Regions from separate parts of the Homo sapiens genome. Here all the other regions are reported to be linked to region 6. The links are microRNA targets in miRTarBase. Many come from high-throughput screens and were not tested one by one. Region 6 holds a microRNA gene; each other region holds the end of a gene's coding sequence. Distances are between the middles of the regions.
Evidence for each region. Region 6 holds the annotated microRNA hsa-miR-23c (AUCACAUUGCCAGUGAUUACCC, at 1,571-1,592, opposite strand). A microRNA usually pairs through its seed, bases 2 to 8, with sites in the 3' UTR of a target mRNA and lowers its output. Matches are read on the target gene's strand: a 7mer-m8 pairs with bases 2 to 8, a 7mer-A1 pairs with bases 2 to 7 and ends in A, and an 8mer does both.

Region 1 (3,083 bases), not on the chromosome of region 6:
TTAATCCCCTTGGTATACATCTTCTAATTGTTTTAGCTGGTATGACATTTATGCATGTTCCTCAAAGAAGAAATAAAGTAGGGAAGTTACTATTTTGTCTGTAGAAAAATGATGGGGTATCCTGAAGAATATAATACTTCCTGTATTTAAAGCATGTTTGCCTCTTAGGTTCAAAGAACCCTCACCTGATCACTAACTGGGGACCTGCAGCTTTCACTGAGGCAGAACTTGAAGAGAGAGAGAAGAACTGGAAAGAGAAAAAGACCACGGAGTGACTGAGCTTGCTGGCAGTCACGTCAGTTATGTAGATACTGCATGGCAGGAGAGCTTTACGCTAAAGACAAAAGAAACAGCTTTGGGGGCCGGGCGTGGTGGCTCACGCCTGTAATCCCAGCACTTTGGGAGGCCGAGGCGGGTGGATCACCTGAGGTCAGGAGTTCAAGAGCAGCCTGGCCAACCTGGTGAAACCCTGTCTCTACTAAAAATACAAAAAAAATTAGCTGAGCGTGGTGGCGGGCGCCTGTAATCCCAGCTACTTGGGAGGCTGAGGCAGGAGAATCACTTGAACGTGGGAGGCGGAGGTTGCAGCGAGCTGAGATCATGCCGTTGTACTCCAGCTTGGGCAACAGAGTGAGACTCCATCTCAAAACAAAACAAAACAAAACAAAACAAAAAAACCCGGCTTTGCTGCTTTTAACTCTTCTTCCTTCTGTGCCTCTCTAAGTGGGTCAGTATCCTAAGGAAGCCTTCTTATTTATCTTCCTGCAAACAAGGGTTACCTGAAAAGAAAAAAAAAGTCAACATTGTCAAGCTGTTTGTTTACTCTTTCTTTGAAAACATCACCTTCTGAAATTTGTCTTTTAGCTCTCTCAGATTCTTCCCCAAATGAGGCAGGGTGCAGACAGCACAGTCAGCTCTGCAGAGTTTGGAGGGGCTCACTGCCACTGGGTACTCAGAACCTCTGTGGACTGGATGTCAGCTCTTTCCTTTGGCAGCGTGTTTCCTTTTCCGAGTATGTGCTGTTAAACTAGATTGGCCGGTTCGCTTTCCATTTCCTGACACTTGACATGGAATGCCTTTGACCATTGGTGCTCTGACAGAGAAGTCATGGAGTCATTGCCATTTCCTGGTTGCCCTTTTGGAATGTGATCCTGTTAGTAGAGGTTTTCTAGCTTCTACTAAGATATTTCTTTCCCTAACCATCATACACTTGGCATGTTTCATTCCCATCTCCTTTCCCCTCACCTTAAAGGAGACTACCCCTTTGCCCCATATTGTCAACCTAATTTTCTCTCGTACTCTCTCTAGTGAATGATGTGCTACCAAGTATATGCCAGGCTGTGAGAGGATTATACTGAGTAGTAGAAAGAAGCTAATTTGAAATAAAAATTATTTGTATAATTAAGAAAGCAGATTAGATGCACATGGTCAACAGGAAGTTGACTGTATGTCTGCTAGTTAGATTCAAAACATCATAAAGATGATAGCATGTCAATATATTAGCCTAGCCATTATGTTAGCCTTTGTTAGGTGGGCAGCTTTTCTGCTTTTTCCCTTCCTCTGTGGTGACAACGGAGGAAATATCCAACAGAAATACGTCTAACAGGGAAATTGGGATCATAGTTTATATGCATCTGATTTGAAAGGAGTATTGAGGAAGGTTTTCATATATGATCTATCTTTGGATTAAAAAGAACATTTATGAAATCAAGCCTTCTAACACTAGTTATAATTGAGAAGCAACAGTAACTCCGTGGACAGCAATCAAGCTTAAAATTGTAAATAAATATGGGGATAATTCAGTTGTTGCAAAAAAAGGGCAGAATTCAGTAGAATAAAGTCCTTTTCTCTTACAGGTATTAAATGAGGACAGAGAACCTCAGGTGTTCTTATGCTAGTGCTTGCTGAGTGCATACTAAGAAAGCAATTCCAAATAGATGTATACATCTAGAGAGAGTGGTATTAGAGATTCAGTGTATGTATTTATTTACATGAGAGGAAACTGGAATATAATCCCATAAATTATCACCTTTTATGACTGGAAAATATTTGCCAATGAAGAAATGGTCTGTAGGTATTTGTCTTAAGATTTTTGGCTGTTTAATAAAAATGTAACTTTAACGGTTTCTTATAGTTGCCTTTATAAAGTGTATTGTCTAAAATATTTTTGTATCATGTGCCTTTGAAATTTGACAGCTGATTTGGGTGTTGGATTTCTGCCCAGCCATTTATCAGTATTATCATTTTATTCAGTAGCTGGCAGGTGTATTAGACCAACGAGACTTAGGTAAGGAATGGAACCTTTCCTGTGGTTTGACTGCACATTACACCAGAAGACTCCAGTATCCCTCATTCCAGAATGAGGAAAAAGTATTCTACAAAGAACCTAATCACCTCTGTGAAATCTATGGGATGGAAACAGTGTGGCCTTAGGAGTCAAATAGTCTCTGCATGGTGGGGAGGATCATGATGGAATATGTGAATTTCTACTTCTAGAAGTTGTGAAATAGGTCCTGCACTTTTGCAGAATGTCCTTCTTTAAACCTGGCTTATTCCACAGCTGTAGCTGATAACATGACCTGGGGCTTAGCTGCTCTAGCCCTGGGTTCTTGGAGACCTCACACTGCCTGGCCCCTGGCCATCCACCTAAGGACTGCCTGCTTTCTGGTCACATGTGGACCTTGATACGACTAAGCGGTTACATATGTGGTTGTGCAAAAGCTTTCTGTTTAATGCATAGTGTTACCGATTTACATCTTGGTTTTCAGTGGCACTATGTCTAGGAGGCAATATCCTTTTAAACAGTGCTTTGGCTAAGATAGATACTTGTGAATCAAAGATAGCACAGAAATGAACTAAGTATATCCCATTTGGAATTATATTTTGATACTATTTAAAATGGTTTCACCTGTTAAAGGGCCAACAGAACTCTTGGTTTTACTTTTGTAATTACTGTACAGAAAATTTCAAGAGTGTTTGAGTGCTTGTCATCAGGTGTTTTCCTTAATAAGTAGGGATATGATCATTTACAGGAATTATATATGAAAAAAGTTTTTGAAATGTATTTTTGTGATGTGCTATGT
Region 2 (3,083 bases), not on the chromosome of region 6:
ATGCCCGAGTAAAAAATGACAGTTGCTAGTAGTAGTAATTTGTAGGGCTCATTATCTAGAATAATTTTGTTTGACGTTACTAATTAAAATGAACTCTTAAAGAAAAGCAGTGTATTTAGACTCTTGTAGTTAAGAAAAATTACACCACAGAGCCCTTTTTACTTTTTAAATTCATTTTTACATTTTAAATTCATTGCATGTATTCATTATGATTCCCGTTGCTACTATTTTTTAGACTTGACAACTACATTTTATTTCTTTTCTTCCATAAAAGGTGTTTTACAGCTTTCACCACAGCTGCATCAGCTTATAGTTACTATCATTATGGCCGGAAGACTGTTCAGGTGATAAAAGACTGATGAAAGTCATCCCTCACTGTTAGTAAGGAAGCAGTATACATCAATGGGAACAGGGCCCATGGAAATGTACAGGAGTTTCCCTATTTTGGTGTTCAGCTTGAAAAAGGACTTGTCAGAATCAACTGTGTCATCAAAATTTAAGTAATGTGCATTGAAAATAAGGTTGATCATGGGAATATGCAGAATTTCCAATGTATTTTTAAATACAAATAAAATTGTAATTTAGAATTTTTAATCTTAGGTTTCTTGATTAATTTATAAGAGATCAATTATTGTCAGTCTTTTTTGTATGTTTTTTAAAAACATAGTCCAGAGCATGGGCAGAATTGACACCTCTCTTTTAAGTGAAATTTGGATTGCTCACAAAGCACTAGGAAATGTCATGGGGTTCAAATATATATCCTACACAACTGGGCAATACATTTTTGTTTGATTTTTAGGTCTGTGTATACATTAACAGTTCATGTAATTAATACCTGATCATTTGGGATAATGAAAGTGAAGTTAGTTGTAGATGAAGTAAAGTTATAAAAGAGATTAAAAATGCGGTAACTTTTTAAGATAATAATCATACAGAAGGTATGAAGTTCATTTTCGGTAGTCTTCCAACCTCTCAGGTGCCTAATAATTTATGTTTGAGGATAACAGGTAACAAAGATAGTCGAGATAGGAGAACGTGTCTATTAGTCTTTGCATCTAAAAGGCAGTGAGTTACGTTCCTGCCTTCCACTGTGTTTCTGACATAGCAATGTTTGTTTGATATTGGAACCTGGATTCATATTTTATGTAAATAATATCAAGCTGTATATTTTTCAAAGGTTTTTTAAACTTTGGAGACTCTTTCTTTTGTTAAGCAGTTAAAGGAATAAAAGAGCTGGAAAAAAAATTGTACCTTCAACTCAGGTTGTTCCATATAACATACGTATTCTCTGCTGTTACGTAAGTTTTCCGATTCACAGAGTCCATTCATGTACATCACTTACACTTAAATTGTAAAAATAATTAGTCTGACCATCTGACTTTAAAAGACTGTTGCTACACGTACATCATGTTTAGGAGAATGTGGGATATGGGGAAGGGGAGAAGAAGACAGTCCAGTGGTGACTAGTTGCTGCTGCTTAACCTATGGCCTATTGCTGCCCATTGTCCCTGGTTTTAATCCAAGCCTATTATGGAATACTGCAGTGAGATTATCCATTCTCAGCCTGTTGAGCTGCATTAAATTAGAATGGGAGGCTGTAAGTAAAACTCATGCCTCTTGGCCAGGCATTCTGCACCAGCGTGTCCCTCTGTGGCTTGCTGGTCCTGGTTGTTCTCAGACTGGCAGCTGAGCTGCGCTTGGCTTGAAGCATACTGAAGCCTGCAGCCAGGGACACCGCCATTGAATCAGATGGAGGGGGATGAAAAAGCAGAGAAGGGGGCATGTGGCTGGCTATTCTTGCTCTCTGGAGAACAGCTTCATTGTTAGGAGTAGTTAGGCTGAAAGTGGACTTCCCACTGCTGAGCCACCCAAGAGGCACACTGAGCATTAGTGACGGGTGAGCCACATAAGAATAATGTTTAAAAAAGAGAGGACTTGAAGTAGCTATGCGAAAATTTAGAACTTTGCACTTTGTTAACGCTTATTTATGGTTTAGTGTTGATGCCATTTGGAGTGACCTATGGGTTGGACCCATATCTTTTTATTATTAAGGTCTCAATCTGGCTCTGGTTAATAAACGTTTCCCGCTTCATCCCTTAGGAAAATGGTCCAAGTCTCCTCAGGCTTTTGGATACTGAATTGTTATAAAACACATCAATTCTGCCAGTTTATAAAACACTGGAATTGTATTAGACATGTCTGAGTATGTACTTGTTTATAGACTCAAAACATGATGAAAATTCATTTCATTGTCTTCACTGAATAGACTTAACCTTGACAGTAAGCTTAAAGCATTAGTGTCATTTAATTACATGTCTGAGGAATTTATGCTAACTAGATTTTGGGCTTTTGCAGCGAATTTTAGTCGGGGCCTCATTCCTGAGCCCAAGTGACCCTTTCACCTCAGCTTCCCAAGTAGCTGGGATTACAGGTGCACACCAACTGTGCTTTGCAGTTTTGTTTGTGTGTGTGTGTGTGTGTGTGTGTGTGTGTGTGTGTGTGTGTATTTTGTTTTTTTTACAAGCCCACAACATCATAGCTTTGCAGTTTTTAACCAGGAGCTGGTGGAGATCTTTGAAATCATTTAGGCCAATTCTTTTAGTTACATTTATGATGAAACTAGGGATCTACCTTAAAGTTTTGGGAAGCTCTTTCAAAACTTCAGACACCTAGAAATATATATAGTGCAGTTCAGTTTTAGTTTCTGCAGCATGGTTTGGAAACAAAAGATACATAGGATTTAAACTCGATTTGTTTTCTTCTTACAGTAGAAGTAAATGCTCTTGTGGCTTGAATCGCATCTCCCAAGAAAGATACGTTCACGTTCAAACCCCCAGTACTGTACATGTGACCTTATTTGGAAATAGGGTCTTTTTAGATGCAGTCAAGATAGAATTAGATCATACTGGATTACAGTGGGCCCCAATAACTAGGTTTTTTTGTTAAAAAAAAAAAAAAAGGAAATGTGAACAGAGAGAGAATGCCGTGAGATGATGGAGGGATAGATTGGAATGATGTCTGCGAGCTAAGGAATACTGAGGATTGCTGCCAACCATCCGAAGCTGGGAGAGGAGATGGAACAA
Region 3 (3,083 bases), not on the chromosome of region 6:
TGTGTTTTTTAACCTTCTGTTTGTCTTGCAGTCCCTGCTTCTGTTTGTTATTCCCACACAGACATCAAGGTGCCTGACTTCTCTGAATACCGCCGCCTTGAAGTTTTAGATAGTACGAAGTCTTCAAGAGAAAGCAGCGAGGCTAGGAAAGGTTTCTCCTATTTGGTAACTGGAGTAACTACTGTGGGTGTCGCATATGCTGCCAAGAATGCCGTCACCCAGTTCGTTTCCAGCATGAGTGCTTCTGCTGATGTGTTGGCCCTGGCGAAAATCGAAATCAAGTTATCCGATATTCCAGAAGGCAAGAACATGGCTTTCAAATGGAGAGGCAAACCCCTGTTTGTGCGTCATAGAACCCAGAAGGAAATTGAGCAGGAAGCTGCAGTTGAATTATCACAGTTGAGGGACCCACAGCATGATCTAGATCGAGTAAAGAAACCTGAATGGGTTATCCTGATAGGTGTTTGCACTCATCTTGGCTGTGTACCCATTGCAAATGCAGGAGATTTTGGTGGTTATTACTGCCCTTGCCATGGGTCACACTATGATGCATCTGGCAGGATCAGATTGGGTCCTGCTCCTCTCAACCTTGAAGTCCCCACGTATGAGTTCACCAGTGACGATATGGTGATTGTTGGTTAAGAGACTTGGACTCAAGTCATAGGCTTCTTTCAGTCTTTATGTCACCTCAGGAGACTTATTTGAGAGGAAGCCTTCTGTACTTGAAGTTGATTTGAAATATGTAAGAATTGATGATGTATTTGCAAACATTAATGTGAAATAAATTGAATTTAATGTTGAATACTTTCAGGCATTCACTTAATAAAGACACTGTTAAGCACTGTTATGCTCAGTCATACACGCGAAAGGTACAATGTCTTTTAGCTAATTCTAATTAAAAATTACAGACTGGTGTACAAGATACTTGTGAAATCTGTAACTGACTTTATTTTCTTGCCCAAATATTTGCTTCCTGCTTTGCGTCAGGGACGCAGATTCTGCACGGTCATTGTTGGGATGAAGTAAAATTAACGGGTCATCTAAGTGTCTATGGCATTGACAGAAACAGTAGTATCTAGGTATTCCTTATTTACCGGACTTGGTAAGAGTCCTGGCTATGCATTTCCTCCCTACTGTGTAAGCCGTGTGATAATCTCAACACTAATCTGTGGGAAAGAGTCCTGAATGAGGCATTAGTAGCTCTGAGGGTTTATCTTCACGTCTGGTCTGCTGGTTTTTCTCCTTAAGTGACAGGCCAGGAAATTTTATTAGTCCCTTATGAGTGTAAATTAGTACTTAATCCTTTAGTCTTAATAGGCAGTGATGGGATATTACCTGAGAGAAACTTTCCAAAATGAGAGTGCTCTGCCATTTCGTTCATTTTGTGTGTGGTTCATCATGTCCCCAAAGTTCCTGCATCCACTCTATCAGGAGGCAGAAAGGGAGCATCTGAGACCTAATACTGCCTGCATGCAGAAGTGGTCCTGCTGGGTTTGTTTCTGTAGTGATGACACTTTGAATGTTTTTTCCTGTTGGGTTTACAGTCACTCAGCACTTTTCACTGTAAGATGGTGTGGAACCAGACGCAGAGCACATCGGAATTCACATCCTATTCTGCCTCCAATTACACAGGTGAAACAAGACTAAGGTCCATTTTCCCCTGGGAGTTGGGAGTGGGCTTTGTCCTTTGAGAATCACAGTCACTTTTTGATGTGTTTGTCTTTGCTGTTTAGAGGTGGACCAGTCGTGCTTTACTGAGTCTACCTGATAATCTCATGTACACTTTTTTAAAATGGCAAAAATGGTTAGGTTGGGTCTGCCCAAAGGGAACTGACCATCCAGGATTCCAGCCTTTGATGTTAATAGCTAGGTGTTGACAGAAAAAAGAAAATGTCAAACTTTCTATGCTTATGAGTAGATACTAGTCTTTGCTTCATTTTTACCATTCTAGAAATGAAATTAGCATGTGTGATAATTGGTGGGACACAGAAGTATTTTATATTCTGTGTCTCTAGATAGTGGAGGCACTCTTCGGATTGGGGGTTGGAGGAAGGGTTGGTGGCAGAGTTGGAATGTGAAACATTGAGTTGTGAGGGGAACACAGGTCCACACACTAAAAAACCTGTGCTGCCAAAAATGTCAACAGCACCCCCTCCCTATAGAGAAATACTGATAACCTATATCACCTCCCACCCTGAAGTGATACCTTGAAATTCTACATGGCAGTGGAGGACAGAAGTAGGAAGTTTGCAGGTCTCTAGGTACTCACTTAGTGCCGGAATTGCTATATTTGGTGGCTGCTTACTTCATCTTTCATATTTAGAGTTTGATGGTGGGATGCTGTTAAATTGTAGTAGACCATTTAGTTTTTAAAGAAGGCTTTGTTCCACAAGTGACAGGACAAGTCAAGTCACTTCATGCTGTTTTGCTGAATGGATACGGCAGACCTGTGTTAACATTTTTACCATTCTGTGAAAACAAAATCCTAGATAGTAGGAGAAAATTACTTACAGAATAAACCTGACCAGCTAGCACCCTGACATCAGATCATTAACCTACTGCATTTTATTGGGGATAATTCTTGGGACAATCTTGAGAGCCAAGTGTTTTCATTATGCTTTAAAAAGTGTTATAAAAATGGCCTTTTTGAAAATGTTGCATTATTTGTTAAAGATAACATCAAATTTTCTTTGGTCTTTCTGAGCATACCTTTGTAAAAACTTTGACTCAATCTGAGTGTATAGAGGGCATTTGTCCTGACTGGATCAAAATGTGCTTTAGTACCCTCATTTTTCTAAACTGTAGGAACATACTATTTAAATATCAGAAGTAATTCTTCATTCTCACAGTACTAAATTTCATTTTCTGTATTTTCATGTCGTTTGAATTTCATTGCATTTTGTATATTAACCCAAAATAATGTTTATATTTTATGGACTGTTATCCTTAGCCCACTGTTCTAACACACTTTATCACCACCTATTTGCTGGTGACTCCCCACAACCACTTCCCTGAGTTTCATATTCATGTGCTTACTGGGCATATATGTTTGGATGTCCTGTTGACACCTTAAACTCAAACTG
Region 4 (3,083 bases), 36 Mb from region 6:
AGCCCCCACAAAAAGACGAAGGGTCTAACTGCTCAGAGGACAAAGTGGTAGAGTCTCTGCCATCTTCCTCCAGTGAGCAGTCTCCTTTACAGAAGCAGGGTATCCATTCCCCCAGTGACTTTGAGCTCACAGAAGAGGAGGCTGAGGAACCAGACGACAACTCCCTCCAGTCCCCTGAAATGAAATGTTACCAGAGCCAGAAACTATGGCAAATCAACAACCAAGAGAAGTCCTGGCAAAGGCCCCCTCTCAATTGTAGCCACCTTATTGCCCTAGCATTAAGAAACAACCCCCACTGTGGCCTCAGTGTGCAGGAGATCTACAATTTCACCCGACAGCATTTCCCCTTTTTCTGGACAGCTCCGGATGGCTGGAAGAGCACCATTCATTACAACCTCTGCTTCCTGGACAGCTTTGAGAAGGTGCCAGACAGCCTTAAGGATGAAGATAATGCAAGACCTCGCTCTTGCCTTTGGAAGCTCACTAAGGAGGGGCACCGCCGCTTTTGGGAGGAGACTCGTGTCTTAGCCTTTGCTCAAAGGGAGAGAATCCAAGAGTGCATGAGTCAGCCAGAGTTGTTGACCTCTCTCTTTGATCTTTGAAATGCCATTGCTCCCTTTTGGAACACTGCCTTCCTTACTGTGCCTACTTATCCCCTGACATTCATTAATCTCTAAACTTACCCAGCCTGGTTGGTGCCAAGTCTGTCTTTAGCTACTGTTACAATAATGGTGTTAAGTAAAGTTAGAGGTGGGTACAGGGGAGACAGAACTTAAATCCAGGTGGAGAGTCATGGAAAGTCGCACGAGGAGAGTGGCTGTTGTTCCAAATTTTGAGCAAAGGAAAAGAAATCCTAGAAACAATGGCATAGAAACTAAGGAAAGAAGGGTGTGTTTTGTGAAAGAAAGGAATTTTGTTTATAGAGAGTATTTTCACACATGAAAGTGAACAGTGGAATATAAAGCATAAAAGGCAGGATGGAGCCGAGCCATGGAGAACCTCGAGTGCCATGTGAAGAGAATTTGACTTGTGATGAAGAATCAAGTTTCCCCTTCTACCATTCATCAGCTACATCTCCTTTTTAAGTAACCCATTTTATCCTTCAGAACCTCACTTTTCTATTTCTGGCCCTGGACTTCTAAGCCTTGTTTCTTTGTCATCCAATTCCAATATTGACAAATAATTCTAAACAGCTACTTTTAGTTTGTATGTTTAACGTCCTGTGAAATATTCCTGTATTAACCCCAAGCCTTTTGATGATAAAGCTTTATTTTCTATTATTTTTAGTTCTCAAGATTTTATTGAGGATATGCTAATGTGTCAAGGTCCATCTTAGATGCTGAGGATAAAAAGCTGAGGGATACTAGTGGGAGACATATTTATAATGTAAATATGATGAAACAGATGTGAGAAATTGACATGGAAATGGGGAGACATTCTTCCTGGGAAAGACATGAAAGGGCATTGGAAAAAATACATTTTGAGCTAGTTTTGAAGAATAAATGGCAAACTGGAGTAGAGGCATTACAGAGACAACAATGTGAACAAAGTGGATGGAGTGTTTGGGGGAATGGCATGAAGTTCAGTGTGACTTAACTACATGAGGACCGTGAGTGACTAAGAGAAAACTATTAGGTGTTTGGACTTCATCTTGTGGGTTTTTAGGAGCCAAGAGACATCAGTGGAGTTTTGCTAAAAAACAAAAAAAGAAACAAGCCAGCAGCAACAACAAACACTACAGCATTTGTTTTTCTAATTTCAAAATTATCTTTAACATCTTTTCTATGCAAATAAACTTTTGTTTATCAGATTTAAGCATAGCTTTTTGCTTCAATGATATTAACATATATCCAGGAGAAAATAGATTTTTAGGTATAAATTTAGTTGCAAAACCTTCATAATGGGGGTACAAAAACGCCTGTAAGCTACAAAAGCAATTAATTCAATATAATTGTAACTATTTTCAAAGTTCACATTTTTATAATGATGTATTATACCTCATACAAAATTGTATATTTAGGTTAAATCACAAAACAACATATGCAAACAGTATTTTTTGAAAAAAATTGTAAATGCTACTTCTGTATCATAAGGCAAAGACCAAGTTAACAGAATACCTTGGAATTAATAAAATATTCTGCATATAAGTAGTCACCAGTTGCTTCTCATTTTTCTCCCAGATTAACACTTACTAGTAAAAGAGCTGGATGTGAAATTAATGAGACTATTTTTATCACAAACTACACTTCTAATATGCCTAGTCTGTAAACTTCTCAAACAAGGCAAGCTTTCATTTTTAGAACTAGACCTGGAGTTTTCTGCTGCAACCTGGTACCTCTGAGCTTTGAACTCTATTCAGTATTTTCTGATCCTTATTTCTGCTCTCTGGTTGCATGAAAAAAAGCAGTGGCTGGATATGGTGCTTCTTCAGTAATGTCATGATCCAGATATACCTTCAGAGGAACTTTTTAAAAAAATTATAAATTGCTGTAATCGAGTGCAAAATAAAGGAAACTTGAGTTGCTTCATTCAGCTTCCAATTTCTAGGAGGCTTAAGAATCATAAGAATTCTGGATAACAAAAGAAAATAAGACTGTGCTTATAGAGCTTGTTCTGCCGTATTTTTTCTTAATGATTGCTACTTTATTGTTGCTTTTCCTGTTACATGTGATGTATGCATCAGGTGTTAAAAGGTACAATACTTTCTACAACTGAGCACCTTTTTCTGTAAATGAACAAGCAAAGAAATTACACTGAACATCTGCATCTGGCAGTATGTTTTGGAAAAATGACTAAAAATGGGTTTAAATTTAACACTATTAAATCACATCTAATATTTGATACTACACGATTCAATACAGCTATAAAATACAATTATACAAAATATGTTAACATCAAAGAATACAACTAAAATTAAGATAGCAAACACAACCTATATAACTTCTTTTTATAGGAAAATATTTTTGAAGTATGCATGTAGCTGCCCATTCTTTTAAAGAAAATGTACTGCAAGCAAACTTATCAAACTCCAGAAAAATCACACATAGCATTACTAAGCATATCCCCCAAAGTGTACAATATGC
Region 5 (3,083 bases), not on the chromosome of region 6:
CACTCAGGCAGTGGCCTCCATTCACCCAAAGACTAAGTAACTTGCCCTTGATTACACTGGTCTTTTGTGTCCAGGGCCAAGTATCTGCTCAGGCCTCCTGAGTTCTCTGCTTCTCAGAGCCATGGCATTATCTGCTCAGCAGGAGGCAAGTTCTCCTTAAAGGACTGAGGCTGACTTGGTTCCTGTAGGCAGCCATCACCTTGTGGTGTCTGGTGTTGGTTGGGGGAAGTGTTTCCTTTAGGTCTGAGGTAATCAGAGCATCAGGCCCACCCCTCAGGCAGAGGGCAGCTCTGCCCCTCAGACACATTCCTTAAGACTAGGGGTTCACTCTCAGTGGGACCTCAGAGTATGGCCTGGGGTAGGGGATGGGAGGTGGCTCTGCTCAGCAAGTGGAGGTTAGGTCTGGGCCTGACTCAGGAGTAACTATGTGTTTGTGATTTCCATTACCCCCTCCCATTTGCAGCTGGAAGATGTAGAGTGGGAGGACTGGGAGTGAGGGAGCCAGAGGGAGCAGCTCCCCCACCCATGGCATCTCTCGCCTCCCTCGCTCGTCTCAGCCCAGCCCTGGAAGACTGAGAATGTTCCCCCAAATCTCCTCTGCCAACCAGAGCTCTGGGCACAGATTCTGGTGGCTCCCTGCTGGCCCTCTTGGGCCTCTGCTCACACCTGGGAAGGGGCTCTCTAAATCCCGGCCAGAAACTCTGACTTGTGCCAACAATAGGATGACCCAAGGGAGAGGAAACCTATCCTCCTCACCAGAAGAGCCTGTGTTTTTCTGCTGAACACCCACTGTTCCTGAGGACTCCTGCTGGGAAGTCCCAAGGGATAGTTCTAGCCCTTCTGCCTGTGTAGACAGAAGCTAAACCACCAGTCTCTCTCGGAGGAAGCTGAGACAACATACTCTGTCCATACATAAGCAGGCAGGGAGGGCCATGCCACCTACCCTTGGCTAAACAGGGACAGTGAACACATTTTGGTTCCTATCCCAGTGGGTAAGAGGCACTTATCTCTGGGAAATTTGCCTCTCTTGGGACTCTCCCCCTCCCAGGCATTTTCCATTCCTGGAAAGGCTCCTTTGGGGTTCAGAATCCAGAGACCAAACCCTGACCCACCTCCTTCCTTTCCTCCAGCCCACGCTGGTCTGTCCCCATGCCTTCCCAGGGCTTCTTCATGTCGGATGCACCCAAGTCCTTAGCCCAGCTGTGCCACCTGCAGGAGTTCGCTCTTGCGTTTCTTCCCCTCCCCAAGAAGGGAGGGGGCTACTTCAGGCCCTTCTGTGTGTTGCCTGGCAGGATACCTTGTCCAACCAGCTACCCACCTCAACTCCCCTGTAGTTTAGGACACAAAACAGCTACCAGCGGTACAGAGCGGTGATCAAAGCCGAGTACTTACAACTCTGGTAAGCCTAGCTTCTCCGCCTCAGCCCTTCTGCTTCTGGAAGGGCTATCCTGGGGGTGAACTTGAAACTCTCATCAGGCTTCTGCAAAAGCTCTTCTTCCTGAAGACAGACCCAGCCTTTGTGCTCTCACCCTCCACTCTGGTAAAGCTGCACCTCTGGGGGAATGAGGGGCTGCAGGAATCTCTGGAGAGCCTGGTGCTTCACGATGCTGCTCTGGTGATTCTTGTACCTAATCTGGTGTGCTCACCAATGAGTGAAAGGGATCGTGGGTCAGGGACACCGAGAGAGTGAGGTCACTTCCACTTCAAACCTTCAGTGAGGGGGTGGGATGGAGAGAATGCTGAATCTTTTTTTTGACGGGATGGGGTTTTTCTCTTTGTAATTATTTCTTTAGTTTAATTAACCTTTTGGTTGTTTGTGCAATATTATATATTTTAAATTATAATGCATCTCCCCAGAGTATTTTGTAGCTGGGAAAAGAAAAAAGGAAAAAAAGAAAAAAAGATTCTAACAGCTGTTAGTTTTATAATTAAAAAAGAAAGAAAAAAGAACTTTGTCCTGAACCTTTTACAGACTTGCCGTTAACAGCATTAAAGTGATTCACCCGAAGCTGAAAGGTGTCTGGGGGTCTGTTTTTGTCCCCTTGGCAGCTGCACTGGGCCAGGGCAGGACTGGCTTCCCACTTGGAGCCAGAGACAGGGTAGGGGGATAGCCTAGGTCCAGAGGACGTACCTTGTCCTCATCCCAGATTCAGCTTTGCCTTTGGGATGAGAAAGGGTCAGGGCTCGCAACAGGCCTCTCACTGGGACAAGGAGTCGGGAGGCCATCTCTGCACTCCCAGTGCCTCTGCTTTCCTTTGGAAAGGAAGTTGCAACAAGAATGGCTTCAGTTGCTCTTGGTCATTTTTATCCTCTCTTCCCCCTGTTTGTATATGATTCTTGGGTCTATTTTAATTAACTTTAGTATGAAAATCACTTGTCATGCCAGGCGCAGTGGCTCATGCCTGTAATCCCAACATTTTGGGAGGCCAAGGTGGGTGGATCACTAAGGTCAGGAGTTCCAGACCAGCCTGGCCAACATGGTGAAACCCCATCTCTACTAAAAATACAGAAATAGCCAGGCGTGGTGGGAGGTGCCTGTAATCCCAGCTACTGGGGAGGCTGAGGCAGGAGAATCGCTTGAACCTGGGAAGCAGAGTTGCAGTGAACTGGAATCGTGCCACTGCATTCCAGCCTGGGCGACAGAGCAAGACTCTTAAAAAAAAAAAAGGAAGTCTGAATGAGGCCCTTTGATTCCATGAAGATCTCTAAAAGGAAAGAGTAGTAGTAAGGCTGGGGTAGATGTAGGTAAGTTTTAGGATAAGTAAACTTAAAGCGTAAAATATATATCACCATTTTAGAAGCGGGTTTTTGGGTTTGCTTTCTCCCCCTACTTTATTGGAGAGCACTTGCCATTGCTTTTATCAAGTGCTTGCTAGCCATGGATGCCAACTAACTTCTTCAATTGAAGGCCGGAGGATCATATCGGGTTCCAGGAGCCTCTTGAGCAGGTCCTGGCAATCGGCCGAGATGCTCAGATGAGTGGGGAAGGACACCCCCTTCTGCTGCTGCCACAGCATCTTGGGGATGTCTGTGTCGTCAAAAGGTAGGCTGGCACAGAGCATGACATACAGGACCACACCCAT
Region 6 (3,083 bases):
CAAATCACCTGCAGACAGTTCTCACACATGGCCAAGGCTTTTCTGTGTCTGTGGGCAGGCTTGGGCCATGAAGTGTGCATGTGGCCAGATCAGAGAGTTAATTCCCCAGGGAGTGACCTTCTACTACCGTGAAGGGCAGGATGTGGTAGATAAGTAGTTCAGTTTCCTCATCCCTCAGCTGGACAATTCTAAAGCATGATCCACAGTCTGTCAGAGGTTCCCAATGGGACTGTGTTCCAGTCACCCACAGTAACACATGCATCAATGCACTTACATTGGCTTTTCTCCTATTCCTCTACCAGCTTCCTGGGATTCGCTTGCAAAAAAAACTGCTGGCACTCAAATTCTTAGCCCAGGGTTTGCCTTTGGGGAAACCCTAACTCACAGATGGCAAACATTACCAACTTCACTGCAACTGCCCCAACTTATATTTAATAACCAGCCCAGACAGTTTAAGAAGAAACTTCAAGTAAACATTATGAGTCATTGAAATTTAACTAATTGTACCTACTATCAAGGTCCTTAAAAAACAAGTAAAGTCCATCTGAGGACTCATACAGTACCTGCTTTTCAATCATGGCTTTCTCTTGTTTTTCTTGTTCTTGCTTTTCTTTCAACAACAGCTCCTCCTCAGCCTTCCGCTTGGCCTCCTCGCCTGCCTTTCTTTTCTCTTCCCCTTCCTGTTTTTTCTTTTCCTCTTCCTGCCGCTTCCTTTCTTCTTCCTGCTTTCGGGCTTCCTCTTCTAGGCGAAGCCTTTCCTCCTCTGCCTTTCTTTTCAATTCCTCTCTCTCCAGCCTTTTGAGAATACAACTGTTGTTAGAAGATGACATGCTCGAAAAGCAAACTGCCAGAGAACTGTGTGCTGACAGCCGAGAATAATGCTCCACATGGTAACACACACACATACCTTTCAACGAGCATTCATTTAATAACATGATTCATCCTTCCTGGAAATCCACTCTGGTCCATATATTTACCAAAAAGTATTAACCAGGCTTGACTTTAAATTCTGTAATACAGCAATGAATGATGTGTTGATGTGTAACGCATACTGTATTGAAAACAGATGCTCCTCAGTCAATGAACAAATGACCACGGTGACAGAAAGCCAAGCCATCATTCTTATTGAATGACAATTCTTTTAAAACCTAAGCAGAATATTTAAAACCAATGAAAGCTAGGAAAAATGGGAAGTGTCTCAATGGCCACAAATGTGCCAGTCAGCAATTTAAGAGCAGTGACTACGAACTCAAAAAGTCATACCAATTTGGTTCTAATTGGTATGTGACTTATGAAGCAGCAAATGGAAGAAAATGCTCAACAGAAACTTGACATTTAATAAATTAAAACCTCTATTTCCATTTATTTTGGCAATCTTTAGAAATCTATTTTAGCTTTCTTTGCTATATGAAAATTAAGTGGCATTTAGACATTTTCATCCACAGTCAGATGAATGGTTCATGGTGTAATGGTAAAGAGCTCGAAGCAGTAAGGGAAAATCCTGTAAAGTCCAAGAGCTTGTTTTAACCTTTCTAATGTTCCTCCTCCTCACATGTACGTCACTTTCCTTGGGTAATCACTGGCAATGTGATGTATGGGCATGACTCAAATTGTACTCTGATTATGCCACTCACTGTGTGACACCTGGAAAGTCACTCAATGTTCTTGATGCCCATTTAAAAAATGGGAAAAGCTATACTATTGTTCTATGGCTTTACTGTGAGAATGAAAATGCCTGGCCCTAGAAGGTTCTCAAACGTTAGTTTGTTTTACAATTTAAAATGAATCCTCTCTCCAAGCCCCAATGTCCTTTAAAGTGCACCTATAAATCTGTATGTCCTTTAGAAATTACCTTCATTTGGAAGCATGTGCCAATGACTTACTGGGATGCTGTTGTTATAAAAAGGTCAAGACTTAAAAAGAGCATCCATCCATCCTAATGGTCAGCTTCAGAACTTGTGCAGGCTAACAGCCTATGTATGACCAAAGGAAATATTTTGTTTATTCATTCAAAGAAATATTTTAAAAGAAAGATAAACAAATACTTAAATATATTAGCCTGAGACTGTAACAATACGTGATAACACTAAATTAGGTCACAATGCCTATAAACCATTGTGAAACAACTCAAATTATTAACAGATATTCTGGAGAGGAGCATTATAGAACCTATCAGAAAGAAGCTCCCATTTTCTTAGATTCCTCAATGAAATACTATGTCCAACACAGGATTATCCAAAATGGATGTGTTAATAACAAGATGTATCTAAAGGTTAACTGAAGTACCATTTCATTTCTTACCCTTTATTAACGAGCCAATTATGATTGTCCCAGAGAAGTTAACACACAAAGGATACATTGTGTATTAATTAATGTATAAGCTACTTCATAAAGGACCTGCCGTCTTCATCTCCAGGACCTGAAAATCCATTCTCTTTTTTTTTTTTTTTTTTTTGATGGCGTTTCACTGTTGTTGCCCAGGTTGGAGTGCAATGGTGCAACCTTGGCTCACCACAACCTCTGCCTCCCAGGTGCAAGTGATTCTCCTGCCTCAGCCTCCCAACTAGCTGGGATTACAGGTATGCGCCACCATGTCTGGCTAATTTTGTATTTTTAGTAGAGACGGGGTTTCACCATGTTGGTCAGGCTGGTCTCAAACTCCTGACCTCAGGTGATCTGCCTGCCTCGGCCTCCCAAAGTGCTAGGATTATAGGCATGAGCCGCTGCACTTGGCCTCTGTTTCTTGTTTTTTACCATCAGGACTTCAGAAGTGCCCAGATGCACACATGTAAGAACATCCTTATGGCCCCTGAACCTCCATAATCCTCATTATCACCCAAAATATAAATCCCCACAAGCCCATGAGACCCCGCTTGTCCTTTCCATAGCACCTCCAGGGAAATCTTGTCCTTTTTTTTTTTTTTTTTTTTGAGATGGAGTCTCACTCTGTTGCCCAGGCTGGAGTACAGTGGTGTGATCTTGGCTCACTACAACCTCTGCCTCCTGGGTTCAAGTGATTCTTGTGCCTCAGCCTCCCAAGTAGCCGGGACTACAGGCATGCGCCGCTATGCCCAGCTAATTTT
Region 7 (3,068 bases), not on the chromosome of region 6:
CTGGAGAAAAACCCTATGAATGTAAGAAATGCGGTAAAGCCTACACTCGTTCCAGTCACCTTACTCGCCATGAAAGAAGTCATGATATAGAGGCTGGGTGTAGTGACTCAGCCTATAATCCCAGCACTTTGGGAGGCCAAGGCGTGTGGATTGCTTGAGCCCAGGAGTTCATAACCAGCCTGGATTAAAACAATGTGAAACAACCTGGGCAACATGGTGAAACCCTGTCTTTACAAAAAATAAAATAATGCCGGGCACGGTGGCTTACGCCTGTAATCCCAGCACTTTGGGAGGCCGAGGCGGGTGGATCACGAGGTCAGGAGATCGAGACCATCCTGGCCAACACGGTGAAACCCCGTCTCTACTAAAAATACAAAAAATTAGCTGGGCGTGGTGGCAGACGCCTGTGGTCCCAGTTACTCGGGAGGCTGAGGCAGGAGAATGGCATGAACCCGGGAGGCGGAACTTGCAGTGAGCCGAGATCGCACCACTGCACTTCAGCCTGGGTGACAGAGTGAGACTCTGTCTCAAAAAATAAGATAAAATAAAATAAAAAAATAATTAGCTGGGCATGGTGGCACATTGCAGTTGTCTTAGTTGTTTTTCAAGGACATGAAAAGCCGTGCGCAGCAGGCGGGGAAGCCCTGTGCATGCAGATCACGAGGTCGGGAGATTGAGACCATCCTGGCCAACATGGTGAAACCTCGTCTCTACTAAAAACACAAAAATTAGCTGGGTGTGGTGGCATATGCTTGTAATCCCAGCTACTCAGGAGGCTGAGGCAGGAGAATCGTTTGAACCGGGGAGTTGGAGGTTGCAGTTAGCTGAGATGGCACCACTGCACTCCAGCCTGGTGACAGAGTGAGACTCCATCTCAAAAAAGCCCTATGCGGCTGGGCATGGTGGCTCACGCCTGTAATCCCAGCACTTTGGGAGGCCGAGGTGGGTGGATCACAAGGTCAAGAGATCGAGACCATCCTGGCCAACATGGTGAAACCCTGTCTCTACTAAAAATACAAAAATTAGCTGGGTGTGTTGGCGGGTGTCTGTAGTCCCAGCTACTCAGGAGGCTGAGGCAGGAGAATCACTTGAACCCAGGAGGCAGAGGTTGCAGTGAGCTGAAATTGTGCCACTGCACTCCAGCCTGGCAACAGAGTGAGACTCCGTCTCAAAAAAAAGGCCTTATGCGTGTAAGAAATGTGGTAAAGCATTTACTCTTTCCCATTCCCTCATAAACATGAAAGAGCTCACACTTCAGAAAACCTTAAGAATGTAGGAAATGTGGTCAAGCCTTCAGATTTTCCTATTTTGAAGATTTGGGAGGACTCAGAGTGGAGAAGAGCCTTTTAAATTTAAATTTGTGTTAAGGCCTTCAGTTGTTTTAGTTCCGTTTGAAGACATCAACTCATTCCTGAGAAAAACCCTATGAATGTCCAGAATGTGGGAATGTTTTCATTTCTCTCATATCTGCTCAAGGACATGTGAAAATGCACACTGCAGCTGGACCTTGTAAATACAAAAATGTACACAGGATTACAACTAATATTTAGAAACTGCAAGAATATTTTCAGTTTTAACATTTATTTGAAAAGTCGTGAAAACTCCCACTGGAAAGAAGTTCTATAAGTGAAGTTTTTCTAATTTGGAAAGCCTGATGCAAATTAATTATCGTGCGGTGCTTGAAAAAAATGTACATGTATGAAATGTTACACAAGTTGCAAGTATATTGTTTTCATCAGTGGCTCATTCTTAAAGAGTCTTGAGTATGCATTTCACTTTATTTTGCAGGAAAACCTTGAGGTGAGAGTTCTGTAAATGCTTTTTAAGCAGTACTTGAATTTCATAGTAATGATACTTTCTTCAGTTTGTTGGTAGAATTTTTGTCTGTTCATTTGATAATGTGCTGGATTCATGGTTGAATTTTGATGTTTTTCTAATATGTAGGTAAGTTTAATTTTTTTATTTTATTATTATTTTTTTGAGATGGAGTCTCACTCTGTTGCCCAGGCTGGAGTGCAGTGGTGCGGTCTTGGCTCACTGCAACCTCTGCCTCCTGGGTTTAAGCAATTCTCCTGCCTCAGCCTCCCGAGTAGCTGGGATTACAGGCGCCCACCACTATGTCCAGCTAATTTTTTGTATTTTTAGTAGAGACAGGGTTTCACCATGTTGGCTAGGCTGGTCTTGAACTCCTGACCTCATGATTTGCCCCCCCTCAGCCTCCCAAAGTGCTGGGATTACAGGCATGAGCCACTGTGCCCAGCGGAGTAAGTTTAATTTGTATGTATTGTTCTGTGATTAATGGACCAGTGAGTAATGATTGCTAATTGTTGCGATTTTCTTACTAGCCTCACTTGGCAAATTTTGGTTATCCCTTGTCCATTATACACATTCCACCTTTTTTTATTAAAGGAAAAACTACTCTTGGTGTAAAGATGTTTATTTTTTGCTAATAATGAGTTGGTATTAATTCCTAAGTACATAAAGTTTATCATAGAGTATCATCTCGTGAGTTCTTTGCATTTGTTGCCCTTTATTCTTTATTATTTCTGTCTGTTATTTGCATAGTTCACTTTGAATGAAGGAGAGAGAACTGTGATAGGACAATATGTTGTAACCAGTCTGAGGGAGGAAGCATTCAGTCTCACAGTCACATGTGATAGCGTTGGGTTTTTCATCAATGCCTTTGGTATTGTATATAGTATTACACCGTTACGGTATTATAGTTTGTGTATTTTACAGTATTACAGTCTTACCAGTCAGTGTCACATGATTCAGTTCCCTACCAGCCAACAGACAAACCAATCACATACTCCTGTAGGAACAAAGGAACATCCTCACTTTTTTAATGCTGTACCACTCTCTGCTCCCAAGTTAATCCCTGTTTGGGCCTGTGGGAGCTTACACCATCCTCCTGTATGTAATTAATAACTGATGTTTAGTTTATCTGTTTAGTAATAGATGTCATGTGTTTAACGGTACCAGTAGACATAGGGTGCTAATTCCTTCCTCACCAATGGGGTGCATGAGACGCTATTGAAACAATTGGCAACACAAATGGAATGGAGCAG

Region 1: the mRNA of SWAP70 is a reported target of hsa-miR-23c. Seed matches in the 3' UTR shown: 7mer-m8 at 1,143-1,149 and 7mer-A1 at 2,477-2,483.
Region 2: the mRNA of CRLS1 is a reported target of hsa-miR-23c. Seed matches in the 3' UTR shown: 8mer at 2,963-2,970.
Region 3: miRTarBase lists UQCRFS1 as a target of hsa-miR-23c. Seed matches in the 3' UTR shown: 8mer at 773-780 and 8mer at 2,072-2,079.
Region 4: the mRNA of FOXR2 is a reported target of hsa-miR-23c. Seed matches in the 3' UTR shown: 7mer-A1 at 1,010-1,016 and 8mer at 1,538-1,545.
Region 5: the mRNA of BSDC1 is a reported target of hsa-miR-23c. The part of its 3' UTR that is shown has no 7-base or 8-base seed match.
Region 7: the mRNA of ZNF669 is a reported target of hsa-miR-23c. Seed matches in the 3' UTR shown: 8mer at 192-199.

The regions. Positions count from the first base shown.
Region 1 is chr11:9,749,696-9,752,778 of GRCh38, forward strand. It overlaps SWAP70 (switching B cell complex subunit SWAP70), which reads left to right. Exons shown (of 12, transcript NM_015055.4): 12 at 169-3,083. The coding sequence ends at 275. Among named protein-coding and RNA genes, the nearest start is that of SBF2-AS1, 7.1 kb to the right of the region's middle.
Region 2 is chr20:6,036,800-6,039,882 of GRCh38, forward strand. CRLS1 (cardiolipin synthase 1) reads left to right here. Exons shown (of 7, transcript NM_019095.6): 7 at 275-3,083. The coding sequence ends at 359. Among named protein-coding and RNA genes, the nearest start is that of LRRN4, 16 kb to the right of the region's middle.
Region 3 is chr19:29,205,107-29,208,189 of GRCh38, reverse strand. UQCRFS1 (ubiquinol-cytochrome c reductase, Rieske iron-sulfur polypeptide 1) reads left to right here. Exons shown (of 2, transcript NM_006003.3): 2 at 32-2,870. The coding sequence ends at 642. Among named protein-coding and RNA genes, the nearest start is that of UQCRFS1, 6.5 kb to the left of the region's middle.
Region 4 is chrX:55,624,046-55,627,128 of GRCh38, forward strand. FOXR2 (forkhead box R2) reads left to right here. Exons shown (of 1, transcript NM_198451.4): 1 at 1-2,147. The coding sequence ends at 602. Among named protein-coding and RNA genes, the nearest start is that of FOXR2, 2.2 kb to the left of the region's middle.
Region 5 is chr1:32,364,035-32,367,117 of GRCh38, reverse strand. BSDC1 (BSD domain containing 1) reads left to right here. Exons shown (of 11, transcript NM_018045.8): 11 at 464-2,485. The coding sequence ends at 496. It overlaps TSSK3 (testis specific serine kinase 3), which reads right to left. Exons shown (of 2, transcript NM_052841.4): 2 at 2,806-3,083. The coding sequence ends at 2,862. Among named protein-coding and RNA genes, the nearest start is that of TSSK3, 3.0 kb to the right of the region's middle.
Region 6 is chrX:20,015,531-20,018,613 of GRCh38, forward strand. MIR23C (microRNA 23c) reads right to left here and starts at 1,657; the gene lies at 1,558-1,657. It overlaps MAP7D2 (MAP7 domain containing 2), which reads right to left. Exons shown (of 17, transcript NM_001168465.2): 11 at 564-795.
Region 7 is chr1:247,097,464-247,100,531 of GRCh38, reverse strand. It overlaps ZNF669 (zinc finger protein 669), which reads left to right. Exons shown (of 4, transcript NM_001142572.2): 4 at 1-570. The coding sequence ends at 158. Among named protein-coding and RNA genes, the nearest start is that of ZNF669, 5.4 kb to the left of the region's middle.